Regions from separate parts of the Homo sapiens genome. Here regions 1 and 3 are each linked to region 2. Evidence: fine-mapped expression QTL. A gene starts in region 2. Each other region holds a variant in brackets. All regions are shown on one strand. Distances are between the middles of the regions. Region 1 overlaps HAUS6 (HAUS augmin like complex subunit 6). Region 2 holds the start of HAUS6 (HAUS augmin like complex subunit 6). Region 3 has its middle 46 kb from the start of PLIN2.

Region 1 (5,000 bases), 49 kb after region 2:
ACTGAGTCAGGAGCTTTATCTTCAGTGTTAGAAATAAAATGATTCATTGCATGCTCTATGTTTGGGAATGTTAGTAAACTGTGTTTTTCTCCCCTTTAATTAGTAACTGAAATTAGGAGCTCATGGAGAAAAGCTATTGAAATGGAAGAAAACAGAACTAAAGAACCAATTCAAATGGATGCTGAACATAGAGAAGTATTGCCAGAATCATTACCTGTGTTGCACAATCAAAGAGAATTTAGCATGGCTGATTTTCTCTTAGAAACCACTGTATCAGATTTTGGCCAGTCTCATTTGACTGAAGAGAAAGTTATTTCAGATTGCGAGTGTGTGCCTCAGAAACATGTGCTGACCAGTCACATAGATGAACCACCAACACAAAATCAGTCAGATTTGTTAAATAAGAAAGTAATTTGCAAGCAAGATTTGGAATGTTTAGCCTTCACCAAGCTTTCAGAAACTAGCCGAATGGAGACATTCTCCCCTGCTGTCGGCAATAGGATAGATGTGATGGGTGGCAGTGAAGAGGAGTTTATGAAAATATTGGACCACTTAGAAGTTTCTTGTAACAAACCTTCCACAAATAAAACTATGTTGTGGAATTCTTTTCAGATATCAAGTGGAATTAGTTCTAAGAGTTTTAAAGATAATGATTTTGGCATATTACACGAAACTCTCCCGGAAGAAGTTGGTCATCTAAGTTTTAATAGTTCCAGTAGTTCAGAGGCCAATTTTAAACTGGAGCCAAATAGTCCTATGCATGGTGGCACTCTTCTAGAAGATGTTGTGGGAGGGAGACAGACTACTCCAGAATCAGACTTTAATTTACAGGCTCTTCGCAGTAGATACGAGGCTCTGAAGAAATCTCTTTCCAAGAAAAGGGAAGAATCTTACCTCTCGAATTCCCAAACACCCGAAAGACACAAACCAGAATTGAGCCCTACTCCCCAAAATGTACAAACAGATGATACGCTTAACTTTTTGGACACCTGTGATTTGCATACTGAGCATATAAAGCCATCTTTACGCACGTCCATCGGTGAAAGAAAACGGTCTCTTTCACCACTAATTAAGTTTTCTCCAGTGGAACAAAGATTGAGAACCACAATAGCATGTAGTCTTGGAGAACTACCTAATTTAAAGGGTAAGGTTTAAATAGACCTATGCATATTCACCTGTTGAAGTTTTCTCTCAACTTTTGATAAAACCAGTACACAAAGAATGCTGCATGACCTTTATTGTTAATGTGCTCCCCCTTCCTTCATTTAGGATGAGGGGAATGATCCCTCACTGGACAGGTCCTTTCAGAATCTCTGTTTATGTATATATAGTTACAATTGATTTGAGACAGGGGTGGGAAAAAAAAGCCCCCCCAATCTGAAGCTTACAGGTTTTATAATACAAATGACTGAAAAGTAAATGTCATCAAAATCTTGCCCAGTGGAAGGTGGTTTTTAAACACTTGAGAAACCCAATTTTAAATATCATCACTATAATGGTGTAATATCTGGGGGTGGGGTGTAGAAATAAAAGAAGCCAGGTCAGTGTATTAGTTTCCTAGGGCTGCCATAACAAAGCACCATCAAGTGGGTGGCTTAGAACAGCAGAAATTTATTGTCTCTGGAGACAGTAAGTTCTAGAGGCTAGATGTCCAAAATCAAGGTGTTGACAGGGCCATGTTCCCTCTGAAGCCACTAGAAGAGGATCCTTCTTTGCCTCTTCTAGCCTCTGGTAGCACCAGGCATTCCTTGGCTTGTGGCAGTGTAATTCTAATCTTTGCCTCCATTGTCACATGGTATTCTTCCCTTGTGTGTGTATTGTCTTATAAGGACACAGTCATATTAGCTAATTAATGGGTCACCCTACTCCAGTATGACCTCATCTTACTTAGCTAATTATATCTGTAATGACCACATTTCCAAATAAGGTCACATTCTGAGGTACTGGGGTTAGAACTTCAACATATGTTTTTGGGGGTATTCAGTTCATAACAGTTAGTATTAATAATTATTGAAGCTAGGTGATGGATATATTGAGTTAATCACAGTTCTCTTCACTTTTGTATGTTTGAATGTTTTCCTCATAAAAGGTTAAAAAAATTGCTCTTGTAGCTCATTAAGAGAGATAAGGATCTGGTGATACAGATTCATTACATACTCTGATTTGCCCATAATAGTTATACACTGCCATATTGAAAAGTATTTGGCTGGGCACAGTGGCTCACACCTGCAATCCCAGCACTTTGGGAGTCCGAGATGGGAGGATCACTTGAACCCAGGAGTTCGAGACTAGCCTCAGCAACACAGGGAGACTATGTCTCTACAAAAAATTAAACAATTAGCTGGGCA[C/T]GTTGGCGCATGCCTGTGATCCCAGGTACACAGGAGGCTGAGGTGGGAGGATTGCTTGGGCCTGGGAGTTTGAGGCTGAAGTGAGCTGCGATCGTGCCACTGCACTCCAGCCTGGGTGACAGAGCAAGACCCTGTCGCAGAAAAAAGAAAAAAAAAAAAGTACTCTGGGAGGAATGTATTGATCTCTGGAGAAAGAGGGTACTTTGGTGAGAATAATAATAATTTTATCATAATCAAGTATTTGCAAAGCTATGAACCTTTTTTGTATTGACTAAAATTTGCTATTGCTTGGAATCTATTGTTTATTTTTCTTTGTAATGTTTGCTTATACTTTTTTAAAATCAATTTGCAGAAGAAGACATTTTGAATAAGAGCCTTGATGCAAAAGAACCACCGTCTGACTTGACAAGATGAAGACGTACCCATTTAATATAACTATGATGCACTTAAATTGAAGCTATGCCACAGGATAGAAAATGAATTACAACTTAAATACATGTTGGAAGTGTAACACTGTTTTTCAAGGTTTAAAAAAATTCCTAATGCCTTTTAGCCTTCTTTAATATTTTTAGGTAAGGAAAGTATGTTTGGATTTTTTCCTCTTTGTAGGTATATGAGATTGAAATGTGAAGTATTTGGACAACAAACGTCAAGCAATGGGAAGCCATTTTGATTTCTTGAGTAATCTTGTAAGCATTAAGTGAATGACAAAGTAGTAGTGTAACTTATTTCTTATGTTATAACTTCAGTCAATTAATATAAGGATAGTTTTTGTTGTATGTTCACTAAATGGTTAATATAATAGCCATTGAATATACTAATCTTTCATCTTAGAGAACTATACAACTTTTATTGTTTCTTAATGGAACATTCTGGCTAACCAGAAAAAGTGAGAAAAGTAGTACCTTGGGATGTGTAGTCAAGATGACAAATTTTAAGACTGGAAAAGCTCTAAACAGGCTTAATGATTCTTCAGGTAGAATGATCCTGAGAAGTGATGTTTGATGGAATAAAGTGCATGTGATGATTAAGTGAAGACTGGGGCAGAATGATTTAAAAAAAGGAAAAAGATGGAAGATGAGTAGACACTTGCAAGGAACACTGTCAAACTATAAATCCATTCAGTGGGTTGTATAACATTTATATTTAGTCTAATTTAGACTTTGATAATTTAATGCTACTTTTATATTTTAACAAAAATATAAATTAAAATTTTCATTAGTCTGTTTTGTTGTTGGGTTTTTTTGTGAGGTACTCCCTGTTGGGGGAAAGGAACAAGGAACAACCATCAGAATCCCCCAGTCCCTACAGAATAGCCTCACAGTAACTTGAGAAAACTGAACTTGGGGTTAAATAACTTGTCACACTTGCAGTCTCCTGCCTCACTCCTTCAGGTGCCCTGCCTAGAAAAAGACTTGTGTCTAGCATCCAAGTGAACACATACTATTGCCCTCTGTGAACCAGGAGGAATGGAACAGGCAATGGAAGGGTGATAGTACCTACAATACCCTTTGTAGACCCCATCTCACTACCATCAAAATCTTGTCCACTAGCCCCCAAAAAACTGGCAAGGAAAGAAGGTGGAGGGGAAATTTATGGAAGTAGATGGCTTAATAGTTATTTCTTTTATCTTGGGCTGCCTTTCTCTAAGTTGGTTGTCCTGTCCCAGTGTGAAGACCCATCTTTTTGTGAGAAAAGACAAAAGAAAGCACATGTAACTACCTTCTTTGCAATGGAAAAGGAGAAAGAAAAAATCTTCTCCTAAGTTGCTGTTTTCTTTTATTAGTTAATAAAACAAATCAGGGACTATGCAGGTCTATGGGGAAACCTTTAGTCTGCTTTAAGAAAACTCAGTATCTGAAAATCTTAACTTAGCATGTGATACTGTCTTATCAGCATCTGCAGAAGTGCCAAAGCCACTGCTAGACACTTAATGTGTATTATTTCATTTAATTATATTTTAAATGTGCTTCCTTGGTAATTCTTAAGCTCGAGAAAGAGTTTGAGAACTGCTGCTAGGAAATAGAGATTCACATTTAACCCTGTGGTACTTTTAAGAAGCAGGTACGTTGTTGCATATATACTTGGGTAGAGATTGGTAACTATCTGATAGGGAAGCTCAAGTTGGCCACCCAAGTCTGAGAAACCCTTAATTACTGAGAATCAAAAGAGCAGAATGTCTGTAGACATTTTGGATTTGTAAAAATCACATTGTTGAGTTATACCTGTGATGGGCTGAAAGTTTTTGGCATTCTTTCCTGTTCTTCATATGCCAGTACCATAAACAAAAAGTATCTCAGATCTGTCACTTTCTTCTCCTAAACCAATGTGATGGCAGCTTTTTGCCTTCAGCCTTTTCCCTATCCAGTATCTCCTACATAGTTACCTTTTGATCTTAAGGAACTGTTTTGATTGGGTCACTTCCTTGCCTAAAATTCCATTGATTGTTCATTGTTAATTCTAAAATAGAGTTCAAATTTAAAGGCATGTAAGTTCCCCTGTAACGGATTTCCTCTACTCCCCCTTCCGCTGTAATCTCCCATTTTTTTACTGAAATGCTTCAGTGAGCATGGGTCTTTAGAGGTCTTGATATACAATTTTCCTGAAGCAGGAATACCTTGCTTTCCTCTACTAGTTTACCACAATTACAGC
Region 2 (10,670 bases):
CCTGGGTGACAATGAGACTCCATCTCAAAACAAACAAACAAACAAAACAAAACGAAATCCAATGTCAAAATTTCCATTTTTTCAATTTTTAAGTGTACAATTATGTGGCATTAAGCACATTCACAATGTTATACAACCATCACCGTTATATTCATCTTAAGCACAAATTCTGTACCTATTAAACAATAACTCCAGGCTGGGTGCAGTGGCTCACGCCTGTAATCCCAACATTTTGGGAAGCCAAGGAGGTTGGACCACTTGAGGTCAGGAGTTCGAGACCAGCCTGGCCAACATGGTGAAACCCCATCTCTACTAAAAAATACAAAAATTAGCCAGGCATGGTTGCAGCGCACGCCTGTAATCCCAGTTACTCGGGAAACTGAGGTAGGAGAATCAGTTGAACCTGGGAGGCTGAGGTTGCAGACAGCTGAGATTACGCCACTGCACTCCAACCTGGGGGAGAGAGTGAAACTCCATCTAAAACAAAACAAAACAAAAAAACCCACAATAACTCCCCAATTTCCCTCTTTCCTTCTATTTTTTGAGGGATTTTTTTTTTTTTCCTGTAAACAGTGTCTTGCTCTGTTACCCAGGCTAGAGTGCAGTGGTGCAATCTTGGCTCACTGCAACCTCTGCCTCCTGGGTTCAAGTAATTCTCCTGCCTCAGCCTCCCGAGTAGCTGGGATTACAGTCATCTGCCACTATACCCGGCTAATTTTTGTATTATTAGTAGAGATGGGGTTTCACCATGTTGGCCAGGCTGGTCTCGAACTCCTGACCTCATGATCCACCTGCCAAAGTGTTGGGATTACAGGCGTGAGCCACCGCACCTGGTCTTTTTGAGGGATTTTTGTTGCTGTTAGCTCTTTTTCCTCTGTTAGGTAATCAGCTACATTTTTTCCTCCACTATCAAGATTCTAGCCTTTGGTAATACGTTTTATGTTATTAATTTTTTTTCTTTTCTTTCTTTTTTTTTTTTTTCAGACAGAGTCTCGCTCTGTCGCCCAGGCTGGAGTGGTGGTGAACCTCGGCTCACTGCTCCTGGATTCAAGTGATTCTCCTGCCTCAGCCTCCTGAGTAACTGGGGCTACAGGGGCATGCCACCACGCCTGGCTAACTTTTTGTATTTTTAGTAGAGACAGCGTTCCACCGTGTTAGCCAGGATGGTCTCGATCTCCCAACCTCGTGATCCTCCCATCTCGGCCTCCCAAAGGGCTGGGATTACAGGCGTGAGCCACTGCAGCTGGCCTTAATTTTCTTGTTTTAATCTGTTGTTTGCTAAGAAACATTACCTAGCTTATCGAAATTGTATATAAAATAAAATTTGATAGAGTTTCTTGTCCCTAAAGGCTTTCCTGTGCAGGGAAGAGGTAGGGTTTTGTGATGGCTGTTTCAACCATAAAAAGACCTTTTGTTTCCTCAGTTGCTAAACATTTGCCTAGACACTTGCTTATGGAAAAGTGGGGTATTATTGTTTTTAAGAAAGTAATAGATTAATAGTTGAATAACAAAAAATGCTTTATATCTGGTATTTTTTAAAAAAGCTTCATTGACTAGGTTCCACCACTAGTTAGTTTCCTTTTTAAAAGGTTTCCTTAGTGCTTTTATAGTATGAGGGAATTGCAGGAATAAGACCACAAACATCTTTTCAAAAAGCACAGCTATGGACAAAGCAAGGTTCACCTACATGCACTAAAGTCTCCATGAGCTCAGATGGACCTGACAACTCACTTCATCGGTGTTTGTTTCAATATCCAAGATTCTTCTTTTACAGGTGTTTGATTTCACCACCATAGACTTGACATCTGAGACTGATGAAATTCCAGATATTATAGCTTTGGAAGAGGAGAACGGATCAAATAATTCACATGCTAATGGCCCTGTCCTCTCAGGGCAAGATGTTGAATAACTAACAACAATAAAATACCCCTTTTGGTTGAATACGCAATTTGTATTACATTAAACTTCCTGTTTTTATTCCTGTGACTTTGAAGAGTGTTAATCTATTTTTTGGCTACATTGGTCTTAATTGCAATGACACTCTGATCTAAACTTTTGTAAGAGATCCTAGTTCTGTGTCATATAATCATTTAATATAATTAAAGTTTAATTGCTGAAATACTTATAATGAAAATTGGGCTGTATAATCTTGACTTCATGATTTTTTTTCCCACTGGTATAGTGAACATTTGTTGTCTTTTGGTCTCCCATGATTCATTCATGCTTCTTTTGAAGGTCTCAGTGGGTATAGTGGTCAAGGTTTTTGCTTTCCCTTAGCCTAGTGATGGGCATGTGACTAAAAGCAGGTCACCTGGGAGGAAGCATAGCATGATGGGTAAGGGCTCAGACTCTGGGTTGTAATCTGGCTCTGCTGCTTACTGTGTGACCTTCAGCAAGTTACTTAATTTCTCTATGCCTCATTTTTTTCATCAGTAAAACAGGAATAGGGCTAAGTTTGCTCTGAAGATTAAATAGTTAACATTTGTGAAAAGCATAAAGCAGTGCCTGGCACAGAGCCGCATTAAGTATTAGTTGCCTGTAATCCCAGCACTTTGGGAGGCCAAGGCGGGTGGATCACTTGAGGTCAGGAGTTTGAAACCAGCCTGGCCAACATGGTGAAACCCCGTCTTTACTAAAAATACAAAAAAAAAAAAAAAAAAAAAAAATTAGCCGGGCTGTGGTGGCACAGGCCTGTAATCCCAGCTACTCAGGAGGCTGAGGCAGGAGAATTGCTTGAACCCAGGAGACAGAGGTTGCAGTGAGCCAAGATCACACCACCGCCCTCCAGTTTGGGTGGCAGAGTGAGACTCCATCTCAAAAAAAAAAAAAAAAAAAGTATTAGTTAAGGGAGTAAACTGTAGAAGCAATCCGGGGGCAGTGGCTCACACTTAGAATCCCAGCACTTTGGGAGGCCAAGGTGGGAGAATCACTTGAGCCCAGGAGTTCCAGACCAGTGTGGGCAATATGGTAAGACCTTCTCTCTATAACAAAAAACCTTAAAAAATTAGGCTGGGCACAGTGGCTCACGTCTGTAATCCCAACACTTTGGGAGGCCAAGGCGGGCAGATCACTTGAGGTCAGGAGCTCCAGACCAGCCTGGCCAACATGGTGAAACCCTGTCTCTACTAAAAATACAAAAATTTGTCAGGTGTGGTGGTGGACGCCTGTAATCCTAGCTACTCAGGAGGCTGAGGCAGAAGAATACCAGCCTAGCCTGGAATTCCTGGCCTCAAGTGATCCTCCTGCCTTGGCCTCCCAAAGTGCTGGGATTACAGGCATGAGCCACTGCGCCTAGCTGCCAAATCTTAGAATGAGGCCTAGTGAGTGAGAACTAAACTCTGATCTTTTTTCTTTCTTGTCCAAATTCCTATCTACAGAACTTGGGGAGTCATGTCCTACAAGCCATAAAAATCTCATCAGATGGGTTTTGTTGAAGCCTATATAACCCAGCTTACTTTCCAACCTGACTAGCATAATATCACATGACAGATAAAGAAGGAAATCAAAATATTTTTTCCCAAAATATGTTTCTTTGTTATATTTTGAAATGGTCCTGCAACGTCGTCGCTTATGGGGAGAAATCTACATCTGTAAAGAAGCTGGCTGGTGGCTCACGCCTGTAATCTCAGCACTTTGGGAGGCCGAGGCAGGCAGATCACCTGAGGTCTGGAGTTCCAGACCAGCCTGGCCAACACGGTGAAACCCCGTCTCTACTGAAAATACAAAAATTAGCTGGGCATGGTGGCGCATGCCTGTAATCCCAGCTACTTGGGAGGCTGAGGCAGGAGAATTACTTGAACCCAGGAGGCAGACGTTGCACTGAGCAGAGATGGCGCCACTGCACTCCAGCCTGGGCGATAGAGTGAGACTCCGTCTCATAAATAAATAAGTAGATCTTTCCCCTGGCAGGCCCTCCCAATCCTGAAGAGATTAACTGAGGATCCAATACTTGCTCTGTCACCCAGGCTGGAGTACAGTGGCGTGGCATGTGATCTCAGCTCACTGCAACCTCTGCCTCCTGGGTTCAAGGGATTCTCCTGCCTTAGCCTCCCAAGTAGCTGGGACTACAGGCGTCTGCCACCATGCCTAGCTAATTTTTGTCTTTTTAGTAGAGATGGGGTTTCACCATGTTGGCTGGGTTGGTCTTGAACTCTTGACCTCAGGTGATCTGCCTGCCTTGGCCTCTCAAAATGCAGGATTACAGGTGTGAGCCGCTGTGTCTAGCCTAAATTTTTTTTTTTTTTCTGAGACAGGGTCTTGCTCTGTTGCCCAGGCTGGTGTGCAGTGGCATGATGTGGGCTCACTGAAACCTCTGCCTCCTGGGCTGAAGCAATCCACAGCCTCAGCCTCCCAAAGTGTTGGGATTATAGGTGTGAGCCACCGCATCCAGCTTCTAGTACTTTTGGGTGGCCACCTATGAGACTTCATACTAACCCTGGTGTCCACAACCACTTATCTTGACCTAGAAACTTTTCTATGGATTCCAGGTCTTTAGATAGTAGCTTGACTCTAAACCAATGGCAATCATAAAATCTTTGTTGTTGTTGTTGTTGTTGTTTTGTTTTGAGACACAGTCTCACCCAGTCGCCCAGGCTGGAGTTCAGTGGTGTGATCTCGGCTCACTGCAATCTCAGCCTCTCGGGTTCAAGCGATTTTCCTGCCTCAGCCTCCCGAGTAGCTGGGATTACAGGTGCGCACCACCATGCCCGGCTAATGTTTGTATATTTAGTAGAGATGGGGTTTCACCATGTTGGCCAGGCTGGTCTCAAACTCCTGACCTCAAGTGATCCGTCTGCCTCGGCCTCCCAAAGTGTAGAGATTACAGGTGTGAGCCATCACATCCGCCCCAATCAGAAAATCTTTGAGTCCACCTATGACCTGAACCCACCACTTTGAGTTGCCTCACCTTTCTGTACAGAACCAATGTATACGTCACGTGTATTGATTGATGTCTTATGTCTCTCTAAAACTGTATAAAACAAAGCTATAGCCCCATCATCTTGGGCACATGTTCTCAGGAACTCTTGAGACTGTGCCTCAGGCCATGGTCATTCATATTTGGCTCAGAATAAACCTCTTTAAATATTCTGTTAGAGGAACCCCTGCTTACCAGACCTCTGGTTTAATAAAACATGACTAGAGTGACTCCATCTTAAAGTAGCTAGGCACTTACAAGGCTCCTATAAAATTAATGCTTATGGTTTAAAAATAGCCACATTCTAAGCTGGCCACCAATTATAATTACAGAATATTTATGGCCATACAGGACATCTCCCACTAAGCCTGCAGAATGTCCAGATGTTCTAAAGAGCAGCCCACTTTACTTAAAGATGACGTTAATGAGCAAGCTTAGGTTGAAAGATTAATGGTCTCTGAAAGCACAATAGCCCTACCTTTAGTGAGCACATCTGCGCATTCCAAGTTTAATCACAGCTCTTTATAGTTTCTTACAAGCAGAGACAGTAACAAAGGACCTTGTGTTCCTCCGCCTGCTTTCTGAGGTTGCTCCGCTCTTCAACGGAGTAGTTTCCAATAAACTTGCTTCCTTCATTGTGTTCTGTGATTCACCTCAAATTATTTCCTGCACGAGATCCAAGAACCTTCTCTTTGGGTCTGGATCAGGACTCTGTTTTTTCCGGCAACAATTTTACAGACTTTGACTCTTTTTGTCGACAGGAGTCAGAGATTTTTTTTTTGTGGCTGTTCTTTTGCTTTGAGAAGGGTCTTGCTCTGTCACTAGGCTGAAGTGCAGTCGTGCAATCACAGTTTACTGCAGCCTCAGCCTCCCAGGGCCCACGTGATTTTCCCACCTCAGCCTTCTGAGCAGCTGGACCACAGGCGTGCACCACCAGAATGGAGTCAGAGATCTTACAGATGACCTCCATAATGAAAAGCTATGGGTGATAGCATAAACTTCAAAAGGTGCTTTTAGGCTGGGCACGGTGGCTCATTCCTTGGGAGGTCAAGGTGGGCAGGTCGCTTGAGCCCAGGAGTTCGAGCCCAGCCTGGGCAACTTAGTGGCTTTTCTTTCTTTCTCTCTCTCTCTCTCCTCTTTTTTTTTTTTTTTTTTGAGACAGAGTCTCACTTTGTCGCCCAGGCTGGAATGCAGTGGAAGGATCTTGGCTCACTGCAACGTCTGCCTCCCGGGTTCAAGCGATTCTTCTGCCTCAGCCTCCCGAGTAGCTGAGCTGGGATTACAGGCATGCGCTACCACGCCCGGCTAATTTTGTATTTTTAGTAGAGACGGGGTTTCTACATGTTGGTCAGGCTGGTCTCGAACTCCCCACCTCAGGTGATCCGCCCACCTTGGCCTCCCAAAGTGCTGGGATTATAGGCGTGAGCCACTGTGCCCCGCCTCTCTCTCTTTTATTAAGGTGATTTTAGTGAGGCAGGAGACAATCATTGCCAGAGGTAGCAATGAGACTTAAAAGCAGGTTACCCAATCCACTTCCAGGCCCTGTTGTCAGTGGGGTTTGTGGTAGGCAACAGCTGTCAATTAAGACGACGGGCCGGGTGCGGTGGCTCACGCCTATAATCCCAGCACTTCGGGAGGCCGAGGAGGGCGGATCACGAGGTCAGGAGATCGAGACCATCCTGGCTAACAGGGTGAAACCCCGTCTCTACTAAAAATACAAAAAATTAGCCCGGCGTGGTGGTGGGAGCCTGTAGTCCCAGCTACTCGGGAGGCTGAGGCAGGAGAATGGCGTGAACCTGGGAGGCGGAGCTTGCAGTGAGCCGAGATTGCGCCACTGCACTCCAGCCTGGGAGACAGAGCTAGACTCCGTCTCAAAAAAAAAAAAAAAAAAAAAAAAAAAATTAAGAGGACTGCAGGCGGCCAGGCGCAGTGGCTCACGCCTGTAATCCCAGCACTTTGGGAGGCCAAGACCGGCAGATAACCTGAGGTCAGGAGTTCGAGACCAGCCAGCCAACATGGTGAAACCCCGTCTCCATTAAAAATACAAAAAAATTAGCCGGGCGTGGTGGCGGACACCTGTTAATCCCAGCTACTCGGGAGGCTGAGGCAGGAGAATCGCTTGAACCCGGGAGGCGGAGGTTGCAGTGAGCCGAAATCGCGTCACTGCACCCCAACTTGAGCAACAAGAGCGAAACCCCGTCTCAAAAAAAAAAAAAAAAAAAAAAAAGACTGCAGGACTGCAGGGGAGTATAGAGCCAGATTTCATTTAAAGCAGGAAAAGGAACATCCGGCATTTGAGGACATAGATTTCGCTAACGACAGAAATGAGGCTCAGAGATTACGTGACTTGATTAGAGTCACAGTGAGCATAGCGGAGGATGGAACCAATGCTTTAACTCTACACCGAGGCATAGTGCTCCATTTATGGCTTTTTTGTGACGTAACAACTAGGATACACAAGCAAATGGACCCCACTAACCAAGAATCAGAAACCCGAAGGCCCGAGGATCTGGGCACGACAGCGGTTAAGCAAGCGCAGAGCAAGTCGCTGGCCGCGCAATGCCCGGTGGGTCTTGCAGTTTCTTGGCTGGGCATGGCCGGAAGGGAGGAGAGAAGGACGCATTGCATGGCGGGAGATATAGTCTTTGCCGGAAGTCCCTCCTCCCTCGGACGCCTGGCGGCGCCGGCGCACACTGCTCTTCCTTAAGGGCGGGAGTCTCGGTTTGTGGTGGCTTCGCTGAGGCAGTGGTGGCCGCACTATACCGTTAGAAACTCAATTTCCCGGAGGTTGTGAGGCCCTTTGAGGCGAAATCGCTCTGGGCGTGAAAGGAGCAGGCGTTGGCAATGGAAGGACCACCGCGACCTCAGGCTGACCGTAGGGAGGGATCTTGAGGGCCCTCCGAGTCCCCTGGGCTTGCGCTTTCTTTCTTTGCAGCCACCGTGCCTACCGCGAGGATGAGCTCGGCCTCGGTCACCGCTTTCGAGAAGGAGCATCTCTGGATGTATCTGCAGGCGCTCGGCTTCGAGCCAGGCCCGGCAACCATTGCCTGCGGAAAGATCGTGTCGCACACGCACCTCGGAGTGTAAGGAGGCCGGGGCCGGCGGGGCGAGGGAGCCTGAACCGGGGGACGCCGGGGGACTCCCCCTTTTGTAGACCCCGGAGGTTGATTAATCAGAATTGGTTGAGCAGTTACTCTGTGCCAGGCATTGGCTCCAAAGTTCCTACTCCCAGTTGCTGCCAGCCTAGGGGCAGAGACAGACAGTAAATAATGCAAGAGTGCCGGAAGCGCTCTGTAGGGGAGTGCAAAAGTCTGCAGATGGGGAGAGTGCAAGACTGGAGGAGCAGCTTAACTCTGCCTATGTGGTGGAGGGGTGGTCTGTGAAGTAGTGGGAGGGATGGCGGGTGGTAGTGGAAGAGCATGGGAACCATATGTACAAAACACCTTTTGGACTCAAGGGAGCCTTTGAAGGTGGTTGTTTAATTTTATAATTTTTAATTTTTTAATTAGTAAGGCATGTTGGAGTTAGCATAAAACAACGGAGAAGGGTATTAAAAACAAATACCCTTTTAAGAAAAGTATGGAAAGTAAAAGCCCCTTCCCTACTTTTTCCACTTCTGTTTTATCAACTTTAGCCAGTATCTCTATTTAATCATTCCCACTGTAGGCCAAGAGGAATTCTTTTCTTTCATATGGAGTCTCCCTCTGTTGCCAGGCTGGAGTGCAGTGGCACGATCTCGGCTCACTGCACCCTCCAACTCCCTGGTTCAAGCGATTCTCCTGCCTCAGCCTCCCGAGTAGCTGGGATTACAGGCACTTGCCACCACGCCCAACCAATTTTTGTATCTTTAGTAGAGACGGGGTTTCACCATGTTGGCCAGGATGGTCTCGATCTCCTGAGCTCATGATCCACCTGCCTCGGCCTCCCAAAGTGCTGGGATTACAGGCGTGAGCCACCGTGCCCGGCCTCTATTTTTTTAAAGTATTATTATTTTAGAGACAGTAGCTAACCATGTTGCCCAGGCTGGTCTCAAAATTCCTGGGCTCAAGCAATCCTCCTGCTTCGGTCTTCCAAAGTGCTGGGATTATAGATATGAGCCATTGTTTTTTGTTTTGAGACAGGGTCTCCCACTCTGTCGCCCAGTCTGGAGTGCAGTTGTGCGATCACAGCTCACTGCAGCCTCCAACTCCTGGGCTCAGGCGATCCTCCCACTTCACCCTCCTGAGTAGCTGGGACTACAGGTGCGTGGCACCATGCCTAGGGTCGGCATGTTGCCCAGGCTGGTCTTGAGCTCCTGGCCTCCAGCAATCCCCCCGCCTTGGCCACTCCAAGTGCTGGGATTACAGATGTGAGCCACCGAGCCTGGCCTGTTTTATTTATGTTCATAGTTGTACATATTTTGGGGATATAAAATTTTGATATTTTGATACACTTATACAATGTATAAGGATCAGATCAGGATAAATGGGATAGCCATCATCTCAAACATTTATCTTTCCTTTGTGTTGGAAACATTTCAGTTCTTTTCTAGCTATTTTAAAATACACAATAAATTATTTTTAACTATAGTTTCACTTATGTACTATTGAACACTAGAACTTATTCCTTCTATCTAACTGTATATTTGTACCCATTAATCAACTTCTCTTCCTCCCTCCTTCTCTCCTTTTCCTTTCCTAGACTGTGTTAACCACCATTCTACTCCCTACCTCCATGAGGTCCACTTTTTTTGCTTTCACATGTGAGAACATGTGATATTTGTCTTTCCGTGCCTGGTTTATTTTACTTAAGATAATGACCTCCAGTCCCATCCATGTTGCTGCAGATGACAGGATTTTCTTCTTTTTGTGTGGCTGAATAATATTCCATTGTGTATATATACCACAATTTCTTTATCCATTCATCTGTTTTCTTTATCCATTCAACTTAGGTTGATTCTGTATCTCGACTATTGTGAATAATGTGTCACTAAACATGGGAGTGCAGATGCCTCTTTCATATACTGATCTCCTTCCTTTTGGATATATACCCAGCAGTGGGATTGCTGGATCATAGGGTACTTCTATTTTTAGTTTTTTAAGGAGCCTATGGTTTCCCATAATGGCTGTACTACTTTACATTCCACCAACAAAGTACAAGCATTCCCTTTTCTCTGCAGGATCCACCATCTTGTAACACATGTCCACTTTAAATGCTTTCAACATGGATGTGGCATTAAATTTACTTTTTTGTTTTTATTTTTTGAGATAGTCTGGCTCTGTCTCTCAGGCTGGAGTGCAGTGGCCTGAATGTGGCTCACTGCAGCCTCCATCTCCTGGGCTCAAGCGATCCTTCCTTCCACTTCAGCCTCCCGAATAGCTGGAATTACAGGTGCCTGCTGCCACGCCTGGCTAGTTTTAATTCTTTTTTTTTTGAGATGGAGTCTTGCTCTGTCGCCCAGGCGGGAGTGCAGTGGTGCGATCTGGACTCACTGCAACCCCCGCCTCCCTGGTTCAAGCAATTCTCTGCCTCAGCCTCCTGAGTAGCTGGGAATACAGGCGCCTGCCACCACGCCTGGCTAATTTTTTTGTATTTTTAGTAGAGACCGGGTTTCTCCATCTTAGCCAGGCGGAATCTTAAATTCCTGACCTTGTGATCCACCTGCCTTGGCCTCCCAAAGTGCTGGGATTATAGGCCTGAGCCACCACACCTGGGCAGCTAAGTTTAATTCTATTCTTTTTGTAGAGATGGGTTCTCACTGTGTTGTGGAGGCTGG
Region 3 (11,220 bases), 68 kb before region 2:
ATATGGTGAGACCCCATCTCTACTAAAGATTGTTTTTAAATAGCTGAGTGTTGTGGCGAGGGCCTCTAGTCCTAACTACTCAGAGGCTGAGGCGAAAGGATGCTTGAGCCTGGGAGGTCGAGGCTGCAGTGAGCCGTGATCGCACCACTGCACTCCCGCCTGGGTGACAGAGTGAGACCCTGTCTCAAAACCAACTAATAAAAACAAAACAAAAGTATTTTAAAGGATTTCTCCTATTTAAGTCCTTATTCATATGCTTGAAAATATGTGGTAAAGATGTTTTAGTTGTAGGAAAAATGTTGGAAGCAATCTAAATGTCTATCAAACGAGATAATGGTTAAATTATGGTACATCCTGTGATATACCATACAGATTAGAAAGAATGAAGTGGATCTCCAGATCCTAAAGAATTTGATTCTTCAAAATTAAGAAAATCTGTCCAATTAAAAATACTTCAGGGGTGGCAGGGCACGGTGGCTCAAACCTGTAATCCCATCACTTTGGGAGGCCAAGGCAGGCGGATCACCTGAGATCAGGAGTTCAAGACCAGCCTGGCCAACATGATGAAACCCCGTCTCTACTAAAAATACAAAAAAAATTAGCTGGGCATGGTGGCGTGTGCCTGGAATCCCGGCTACCCAGGAGGCTGAGGCAGGAGAATCGCTGGAACCCGGGAGGCAGAGGCTGCAGAGAGCCAAGATCACACCACTGCACTCCAGCCTGGCCAATGGAGCAAGACTCTGTCTCAAAAAAAAAAAAAAAAAAAAAAAAAATTCAGGGCCAGGCACCACAGTGGCTCATGCCTGTAATCCCAGCACTTTTAGAGGCTGAGGCGGGCAGATCACTTGAGGCTAGGAGTTTGAGACTAGCCTGGCCAACATGGTGAAACCCCATCTCTACAAAAAAATACAAAAATTAGCTGGGTGCCTGTAAACCCAGCTACTTGGAAGGCTGAGGCAGGAGAATCACTTGAACCTGGGAGGCAGAAGTTGCAGTGAGCCAAGACTGTGCCATTGCACTCCAGCCTGGGTGACAAGAGTGAGACTCCGTCTCAAAAACAAACAAAAAAGCCGTTAATATTATATTTACATTAGTGATATCATGTCTCACACATAAATAATAAATATATATTGGCTATGAACAATATATTTTTAAGATTCTGGGGCCAGGCACAGTGGCTCATGCCTATAATCCCAGCACTTTGGGAGGCCAAGGCGGGTGGATCACCTGAGGTCAGGAGTTCGAGAACAGCCTGACCAACATGATGAAACCCTGTCTACTAAAAATACAAAATTAGCTGGGTTTAGTGGTGCATGCCTGTAATCCCAGCTACTCGGGAGGCTGAGGCAGGAGAATAGCTTGAACCCAAGAGGTGGAGGTTGTAGTGAGCTGAGATCGTGCCGTTGCATTCCAGTCTGGGCAACAAGAGCAAAATTCTGTCTCAAAAAAAAAAAAAAAAGATTCTGGTCATGAAGGCACTATTGAGAGGTGACAAAGATATATGCATATATGGAAGATATGTACATGACATAAATCCCCACTGTAGTTATCAGTAACTCCACTTTTTTTCTTTTTCTTTTCTTTTTTTTGAGATGGGGTCTCACTCTATCACCAGGCTGGAGTGCAGTGGTACAGTGATATAATCTTGGCTCACTGTAACCTCTGCCTCCCAGGCTCAAGCGATCCTCCTACCTCAGCCTCCCAAGTAGCTGGGACTGTAGGCACACCACACCACATCCAGCTAATTTTTGTATTTTTTTGTAGAGACAGGGTTTTGCCATGTTGCCCAGGCTGGTCTCGAACTCATGGCTTCAAGCATTTCGCTCCCCTTTGGCCTCCCAAAGTGCTGAGATTATAGGTGTGAGCACCGTGCCCAGCCACTAACTCCACCCTTCCAATAGTTCAAGCCAAAAATCTTGGCATCATCCCTAAATCCTCTCTTTCTCTCATACCCCACATTAAAGTATCAACAATATCTGTTGATATTATTTTAAAAATATTTCCGGAATCCAAACCCTTCTCACCACTTCCTTCTATACCACTCTGGTCCAAAGCATCATCTTTTTTCTTTCTTTTTTTTTTTTTTGGAGATGGAGTTTCGCTTTTTCGCCCAGGCTGGAGTGAAGTGGTGCGATCTCAGTTCACTGTAACCTCCACCCCCCGGGTTTAAGTGATTCTCTTGCCTCAGCCTCCCAAGTAGCTGGAATTACAGGCATGTGCCACCACGCCTGGCTAATTTTTGTATTTTTAGTAGAGATGGGGTTTCACCATGTTGGCCAGGCTGGTCTTGAACTCCTGACCTAAGGTGATCCACCTGCCTCGGCCCCCCAAAGTGCTAGGATTATAGGCATGAGCCACCGCGCCCGGTCAGTACTTTCTTTTTGTAGCACTTATCACAATTGTTGGCATATAGTTACCAGGTTATAAGCTTCATGGAGAGTTTGGGTCTGGATTTCTGTTGTATCCCTAGCACTGGTATATAGTAGATACTCAACAAATACTTACCAATGAGTTAATAAATATATCTGCAAGAGTGGTTATAGTATTGTTGTAACTTCCCTTCTACCTCAAAGCTGCTTTTGATTCAACTCCTATCAACAGGTAGGAGAAGTGAGTTCACCATGACTTGTTCTCCATTATGTATACAGTTGTGTCCCCACAATCCTTGTGATGCTAAACATACAAAAGGGGATATATACATGTTTACGGGTTGGTTGATTAAATGATGTGGTTTGATACTCATCTCCTACCTCAACTTTGCCTATTGTCAGATAAGAGGCAAAGAGAAATATTAGGGAAGCAACTCTCAGGTTACAGAGGTCAAAATCTTACTTGGGTCTTTTGAAATGTAGTCTGGCATTCATAGGAATTTGTCTGTTTTTGTCCACTATTGGCCTGAAAAATCAAATACCCTAGGCCAAGACCCTAATTGCCAGTAACTACTATATTATTGAGCATTATAGTATTAAATTCCATGCATGGCCAATATTATACATTATTAGGTTTTAAAGTAATCAGAAAGTATTTGCCCTTTTTTTTTTGCTTTGCAAATGGATGGGTAAATATATTCACTGTTCCTCTCTTCATTGTAGCAAAATCACGACTATATTACAGCATTAATAACTCTCTAGCTGTGTGGCTTTGGGCAAATCATTTCTCTCTGGACATAAATTTCCTTATTGACACAATGAGGAGATTGGATGTAAGGTCTCTTCCAATTCTAACATCTTTTTTTTCTATTTCATTTGATGAAAATTACCACACAAGGCCGGGCACAGTGGCTCACGCCTGTAATCCCAGCACTTTGGGAGGCCGAGGTGGGTGGATCACGAGGTCAGGAGATCAAGACCAGCCTGGCCAAGATGCTGAAACCCCATCTCTACTAAAAATACAAAAATTAGCCGGACGCGGTGGCAGGCGCCTGTAATCCCAGCTACTTGGGAGGTTGAGGTAGCAGAATCGCTTGAACCCGGGGGAGAGAGGTTGCAGTGAGCTGAGATTGCACCACTGCACTCCAGTCTGGGTGACAGAGCAAGACTCGGTAGACTCTGTCTCAAAAAAAAAAAAAGAAAAAAAGAAAAAGAAAAAAGAAAAGAAAATTACCACACAAATTAACTTACCTCTGGCCGGGTGCAGTGACTCACGCATGTAATCCCAGAACTTTGGGAGGCCAGGGCAGGTGGATCACCTGAGGTCAGGAGTTCGAGACCAGCCTGACCAACATGGTGAAACCCCGTCTTTATTAAAAATGCAAAAATTAGCCGGGCATGGTGGTGCATGCCTGTAATCCCAGCTACTCGGGAGGCTGAGGCAGGAGAATCGCCTGAACCCGGGAGGTGAGGTTGCAGTGAGCCGAGATCATTGCCATTGCATGCCAGGCTGGGCAACAAGAGAGAAATAGTCTCAAAAAAAAAAAATTAGCTTACCTCTAATTTATTCAGTTTTCTTCTATGTTCACAGGGAAAAATAAGACTCAAGTTTTCCTTAAATCTGGAGAAACTTTTTTTTAGGTTGTGTATGTGTTCCTACAAGAGAATTTTCTTTGAAAATAAAATACTGGACCAGCCTGGGCAGCCAAAAAACGGAAAAATTAGCCAGGCGTGGTGGCACATGCCTATAGTCCCAGCTACTCAGGAGGCTGAGGTGGGGGGATCATATGAACCCGGGACATCAAGGCTGCAGTGAGCTGTGACTGTGCCACTGCACTCCAGTCTGTGCAACAGAGTGAGACCTTGTCAAAAAAAGAAAGGAAGAAAAAAAGAAAGAAAGAAAGAAAGAAAGAAAAGGAAGGGAGGGAGAGACAGAGAGAAAAGAAAAAGAAGAAAGGAAGGAGAGGAAGAAAGGAAGGAAGGGAGGGAGGAAAAAATAGAGGAAGGAAGGAAGAGAGAAAGGGATAGAAAGAAAGGAAGGAAGGAAGGAGAGAGAATGAAACAAGGAAGGAAGGACGGAAGGAAGGAGAGAGAAAGGAAAGAAGGAAGGAAGAGAGAGAAAGAAAGAAAAAGAGAAAGGAAGGAAGGAAGGGAAAGAAAGAAGGAAAGGAAAAGAAGAAACTGAAAACATAGACTTTTTCCTATTTGGCCATTAGATGTCGCT[C/T]AACATCCAAAAAGTAGAAGAAACCAGATGTACACTATAAAGCTCCTGCCCAGTTCCCCCGGGACTGACCCAGTCATACTGGGTGGCTTGCTTAATCGTGTACTGGTATTTGTGTGTCAGTGTCTTGCCACGTATAGCAAAAAATCCCCTTAGCCATCCAGAAAACTTGTTGCCTATATGTCTTATATATGTGTTTATTTATTTATTTATTTAAGGAGACAGGGTCTTGCTCTGTAGCCCAGGTTAGAATGAAGTGGTGCAATTATAGCTCACTGCAACCTTGAACTCCTAGACTCAAGCAATCCTCTCACCTCAACCCAAACATCTCAATTTTATAACTTCTTTTTATTTTTTTCAGACAGAGTCTCTGTTCCCCATGCTGGAGTACATTGACATAGTCACAGCTCACTGCTGCCTCAAGCTCCTGGGCTCAAGTCATCCTCTTGCCTCAGCCTTCAGAGTGGCTGGGACTTACAGGCGCGGGCCACCACACCAGGCTAATTTTTGTGTCTTTTGGAAACATGAGGTCTCCCTGTGTTGTCTAGGCTGGTCTTGAACACCTGCAGTCAAGGGGTCCTCCTACCTCAGCTTCCCAAAGTGCTGGGATTAGGATTGCAGGCGTGGGACACTGCACCTGGCTGATTTTATCACTTAAGTCAACATATAGTTGTTGAACATTTTGGCTGACTACATACCAGGATCAATAAGCTCCATGGCGGAATTCCCCCTCATCCTTCAGGACCTAGATCAAATGCCACCTCCTCTGTGGGACCTTATCTGACCTTCCTAGAAAACTCTTTGTCACAGTACTTTTGTATTGTGTTTGTTTACCCACCTACCTCCCCAAATTCTGGAAAAGATTCCCAATCTTCTTCATAATAAAAGAAATGCACACTAAACTACAAAAAGATGCTATTTTAACTTACATGGTAAATATCAACAGTTCTGATATTTGGTTTAGAATAATAGGCATTCTCATATATTTTTAGTGAGAGTGTACACTGGTTTATGATTACTGTTAATAGAAGACAATTTAGAAATTTCTGTCTTTTTTTTTTTTTGAGACATGGTCTCGCTCTGTCACCCAGGCTGGAGTGCAGTGGCACTATCATGGCTCACTTCAGCCTTGACCTCCTGGGCTCAAGTGATCCCCCAACCTTACTGCCCCCTGCCCCAGGTCCTAGGCTAATAAACAGATGAGATTTGGCATGAGAAGGAATAACAATAGTAGCATGAATGCATTTTTGGCAGACACGAGTTGGGGAAGGGACATGTCCTCCCCTTCCCCGTGATGGGGAGAGGGGTGATGCGAAGTATGACAACCGGCAGGTGGGTGATTAAAGGCCCGCTTATACTGCCAAACACATGAGGGTAGTCCTGCACCAACCACACTAGGCATCTTATCATTCAATCGGCATCCTTTGCCATATCTCTTTTTCCTCTTGGGGAAGAAAAATGTGCTGGCACTCACCACCTTCAGTCCCCTTCATTTTTCAGAATGCTGATATTTATTTATACTTGAGGAGTGCTTTAAAGTAATTTTTTTTTTTTTTTGAGACTGAGTCTTGCTTTGTTGCCCAGGCTGGAGTGCAGTGGCGCGATCTTGGCTCACTGCAACCTTTGCCTCCTGGGTTTAATCGATTCTCCTGCCTCAGCCTCCCAGGTAGCTGGGACTACAAGAGCGTGCCACGCCTGGCTAATTTTTTGTATCTTTAGTAGAGACGGGGTTTCACTGTGTTAACCAGGATGGTCTTAATTTCCTGACCTCATGATCCGCCCGCCTCGGCCTCTCAAAGTACTGGGATTACAGGTGTGAGCCACCGCACCTGGCCATAAAGTAATTTTTAATTGGTTGTATGTTTCACAACCTGCACAGGGAAACTCAGACATCGCCTGCAACTTTCCCATGCAGTAAGTGTTCCAACCTCACATCACATTTCAGTACAGAATCTTTTTTTGTTGTTGTTAAGATAGAGACAGGGTCTCCCTATGTTGCCCAGGCTGGTCTCAAACTCCTGGGCTCAAGGGATCCTCCTGCCTCGGCCTCCCAAAGTGCTAAGATTATAGGCATCAGTCACCAAGCCCTGCCCCAGTACAGAATCTTGAGTGTAATTATGTTTTCATAATGAACTTTGGTTTCATCAGATGAAGATTGAATCATAGCACTGCAACTTTTATTTATCCACAAGTGGATTACTTAATATTTGTTCTCATTACTACAGATTTAAAAAGCCTTTCAGCAAAAGCCTCTCATTTGCCTCTCACGTGATTGTTGCCAGGAAATGAGAAACCAAATTACATCCTGAATATTCCTTGCTGCTGCCTCAACAATAGACCTAAAACAATAACAGGCTCAAATTAAGATAGAAATAGAACTATGGGGTTGGGGGGAACTAACGTTAGCAATATACAATGCTAATTTAGCACAGAACACTTACAGAACCAATGTACTTTATGCATCACTAGGGCACCTAAACATTTATTCAATAAGCAGCTATCGGCTGGGTGCAGTGGCTCACACCTGTAATCTCAGCACTTTGGGAGGCCAAGGTGGGTGGATCACCCGAGGTGAGGAGTTCAAGACCAGCCTGGCCAACATAGTGAAACCCAGTCTTTACTAAAAATACAAATATTAGTTGGGCATGGTGGCCCATGCCTGTAATTCCAGCTACTTGGGAGGTTGAGGCAGGAGAATCACTTGAACCCGGGAGGCGGAGGTTGCAGTGAGCCAAGATTGCGCCACTGCGCTCCAGCCTGGGCTACAGAGTGAGACTCCGTCTCAAAAAACAAAACAAAACAAAACAAACAAACAAAAAAAAACAAAAAAAAGCAGCTATAGAATACTTGACATTTTTTTACTTTTCCCTCTGATTTCTAGTTAATAACTGTATTTGAATATTATGTAATCCTATATGCCAGGTGCTATTTTAGGCACTTTATATATCATCTCATTTTCACACTTTGATTTCACATGTCTATTCTCCTCCTAACTGCCTCTTCCTTCTGTAGCTCACAGTTTGCTTCTGCCTCCTACTGTTTTCCTCTTGTCTCTATTATTTACTTTCCTCCCATTATTTTTCTCTCTGTTTCACCTCCGTCCTTGGAAAACTTTTTCCATTTTTCCTGAGATTCCCATCCCCCACTGCCCCCATCCTTCTCCTCTTTGCCTGCCTGTAGTGTATGTTGATAGATATGAAGAAAATTCAGAGGAAAGTCACAAATAGTTTTTCTTAAAATACTTTTAAGTTTTAATGACCACTAATAAGTGTATGAGGTTTTGGTGCTCCACATCCTCACTATTTAAAAAATTTTTGCCATCCCGGTGGGTGTGTAGCAGTATGTCATTCAGGTTTTAGTTTGCATTTCCCTGAACACCAATGATGTTGACCATCTTTTCATGTGCTACTGGACACTCACATATCTTCTTTTTATTATTATTAGTGTGTGTGTGTGTGTGTGTGTGTGTGTGTGTGTCTGTGTGTGTTTCACCCAGGCTGGAGTGCAGTGTCATGATCTGGGCTCACTGCAACCTCCGCCTCCCAGGTTCAAGCTATTCTCCTGCTTCAGCCTCCCAAGTAGCTGGGATTACAGGCGCACGCCACCATGCCTGGCTGATTTTTGTATTTTTAGTAGAGACGGAGTTTTGCCATGTTGCCCAGGCTGGTCTTGAACTCCTGACCTCAGGTGATCTGTCTGCCTTGGCCTCCCAAAGTGCTGGGATTAGAGGCGTGAGCCACCACGACCAGCCACATACCTACTTTGGTGAAGTATCTATTGAAATATTTTTCCCTTTCAAAAAAATGAGTTGTCTTTTTATTACTGAGTTGTAGGAATTCCTTATATATCCTAGATACTGCAGCCTTATCTGATATATATTTTGTTAATAATTTTTCCCCAGTGTGTGGCTTGCATCTGTTTCCTAGTGGTGGCTTGTTGGGCTGGACACGGTGGCTCATGCCTGTAATCCCAGCACTTTGGGAGGCCGCAGTGGGCGGATCACAAGGTCTGGAGTTCGAGACCGCCTGACCAACATGGTGAAACCCCATGTCTAACAAAAATACAAAAATTAGCTGGGCGTGGTGGCATGTGCCTGTAATCCCAGCTACTCATGAGGCTGAGGCAGGAGAATCACTTGAACCCGCAAGATGGAGGTTGCAGTGAGTCGAGATCGAGCCATTGCACTCCAGCCTGGGCACAGAGCGAGACTCCATCTCAAAAAAAAAAAAAAAAAAAAAAGGCCGGGCGTAGTGGCTCACGCCTGTAATCCCAGCACTTTTGAGAGGCCGAGGCGGGTGAATCACAAGGTCAGAAGTTCAAGACCAGCCTGGCCAAGATGGTGAAACCCCATCTCTACTGCAAGTACAAAAATTAGCCAGGTGTGGTGGTGGGTGCCTGTAATCCCAGCTACTTGGGAGGCTGAGGCAGGAGAATCACTTGAAACTGGGAGGCGGACGTTGCAGTGAGCTGAGATCTCACCACTGTGCTCCAGCCTGGGCAACAAGAGCAAGACTCCATCTCAGGAAAAAAAAAAAAAAAATGGCTTATTGTTGTTTTGAGACAGTCTCACTCTGTCACCCAGGCTAGAGTGCAGTGGCATGATCTCAGCTCACTACAGTCTCTGCCTCCCAGCTTCAAGCAATTCTCCTACCTTAGCCTCCCGAGTAGCTGGCACTATAGCCGCACCACCACACCTGGCTAATTAATGTATTTTTAGTGAAGAGGAGGTTTCACTATGTTGGCCAGGCTGGTCTCAAACTCCTGACCTGAAATGATCCGCCTCCCTCGGCCTCCCAAAGTGCTGGGATTACAGACATGAGCCACTGCGTTCAGCATGTTTTGTTTGGTTTTTGGTTTTTTGAGACAGGGTCTTGCTCTGTTGCTCAGGATGAGTGCAGTGAAGCGACCACAGCTCACTGCAGCCTCAAATTCCCGGGCTCAAGAGACGCTCCCACCTCAGCCTCCCAAGTAGCTGGGACTACAGGCACGTGCCACCGTGCCAGACTAATTTTATTTTATTTTTTGTGGAGATGGGTCTCCCTATTTTGCCCAGGCTAGGCTGAACTCAAGTGATCCTCCTACCCCAGCCTCCCATGCCTAGCCGATGGTGGCTTTTGGTAACCAAAAGTATTTCTTTTTGATGAAGTCTACTGCTTTCTCAAACCTTCACCTATTCACAAGTCAAGCTGTTATTTTCACATGTTTCCTCTAAAAGCTTTATGGTTCTAGCTTTACATTTAGGTTTATGATCTATCTCAAAATGATTTTTGTGTGTTATGAGCTGGTGGAAGGGATTTATTTTTTCCATAAGGATATGCAGCATAATTTATTGAATTACTTTCATTTACTCATTGGATTGCTTTGGTTCCTTTTTGAAAGTCAAAGGCTGCATAAATATGGGTGTTTTGCTATTTTTTGAACTATTATTATTTTCTAATTCATTTTTAAATTATCTTTTTGTTATCAGTTTTTTACTTTATTATATTCTGATCTGAGGATCTGGATTATATAATATTGATTTTTTAATTTAAGAAGACCTCTCTTTTGGCTTAGTACATTGTCAGTTTTATTAAGTAATCCTTTGTGCTTGAAAAGAAAAAGTTTTTTCTCTAATATTTGGTTTCAGAGTTCTATGTAGGTCATTTGAGGAACTGCTTTAATTGTGTTGTACAAATCTTCATACTCTTTTTTTTTTTTCTTCTTTTTTTTGAGACAGAGTCTTGCTTAGTCACCCAGGCTGGAGTGCAGTGGCTCGATCTCCGCTCACTGCAAGCTCCGCCTCCTGGGTTCACGCCATTCTCCTGCCTCAGCCTCCGAAGCAGCTGGGACTACAGGCGCTCGCCACCACTCCCAGCTAATTTTTTTGGATTTTTTTTAGTAGAGACGGGGTTTCACCGTGTTAGCCAGGATGGTCGCGATCTCCTGACCTCGTGATCCGCCCGCCTCGGCCTCCCGAAGTGCTGGGATTACAGGCGTGAGCCACCGCGCCCAGCCCTTCATACTCTTAATAAATCTTTTTTTGGCTTGAGCTCTCATTTTCTGAGATATGTGTTACAATCTCCAGTGAAACCCCGTTTCTACTAAAAATACAAAAAATTAGCCAGGTGTGGTGGTGGACGCCTGTAGTCCCAGCTACTTGGGAGGCTGATGCAGGAGAATGGCGTGAACCCAGGAGGTGGAGCTTGCAGTGAGCCGAGATCGCGCCACTGCACTCCAGCCTAGGCAACAGAGTGAGAATCTGTCTCAAAAAAAAAAAAAAGAAAAAAATTGAAAAAGAGATATGTGTTACAATCTCCTACCTTGGCATGCTCATGGGATGGCAAGGAGGCCCATACGCGATTCAACTGGAGTGAGTAAAGGGAAGAAGAGTAGGAGTTCAAATCAAAGAAGCAAGTGGTGCTGGATCATGTCTTAAAGGCTTGGATTTTACTGTGAGCGAGCTGAGTCATTTCTGAAGGGTTTTTTGAACAAAGGATTCAGTGATGCCATTTAAAGAATGGAATTTCAATACCTGAAAATAATAAGACCTATAACAAACCCACAGCCAACATTATACTGAATGGGCCAGAGCTGGAAGCATACCCCTTGAGAGCTGAAACAAGACAAGGATGTCCTCTTTCACCACTCCTA

The links. PIP is the estimated chance that this variant, and not a neighbour inherited with it, causes the effect.
Region 1: its variant is the best candidate, but not a certain one, in a credible set for the expression of HAUS6 in fibroblasts (GTEx, PIP 0.68).
Region 3: its variant is the best candidate, but not a certain one, in a credible set for the expression of HAUS6 in subcutaneous fat (GTEx, PIP 0.54).

What each region holds. Positions count from the first base shown.
Region 1 is chr9:19,054,105-19,059,104 of GRCh38, reverse strand. HAUS6 (HAUS augmin like complex subunit 6) reads left to right here. Exons shown (of 17, transcript NM_017645.5): 16 at 104-1,144; 17 at 2,701-5,000. The coding sequence ends at 2,762. Among named protein-coding and RNA genes, the nearest start is that of RRAGA, 7.2 kb to the right of the region's middle. The variant C/T (reference allele first, on the strand shown) is at 2,349.
Region 2 is chr9:19,099,852-19,110,521 of GRCh38, reverse strand. It overlaps HAUS6 (HAUS augmin like complex subunit 6), which reads left to right and starts at 7,618. Exons shown (of 17, transcript NM_017645.5): 1 at 7,618-7,998. The coding sequence starts at 7,871. It also overlaps a transcript of PLIN2 not described here. RefSeq lists an enhancer at 7,376-7,939.
Region 3 is chr9:19,167,810-19,179,029 of GRCh38, reverse strand. No RefSeq gene overlaps it. Among named protein-coding and RNA genes, the nearest start is that of PLIN2, 46 kb to the right of the region's middle. The variant C/T (reference allele first, on the strand shown) is at 4,594.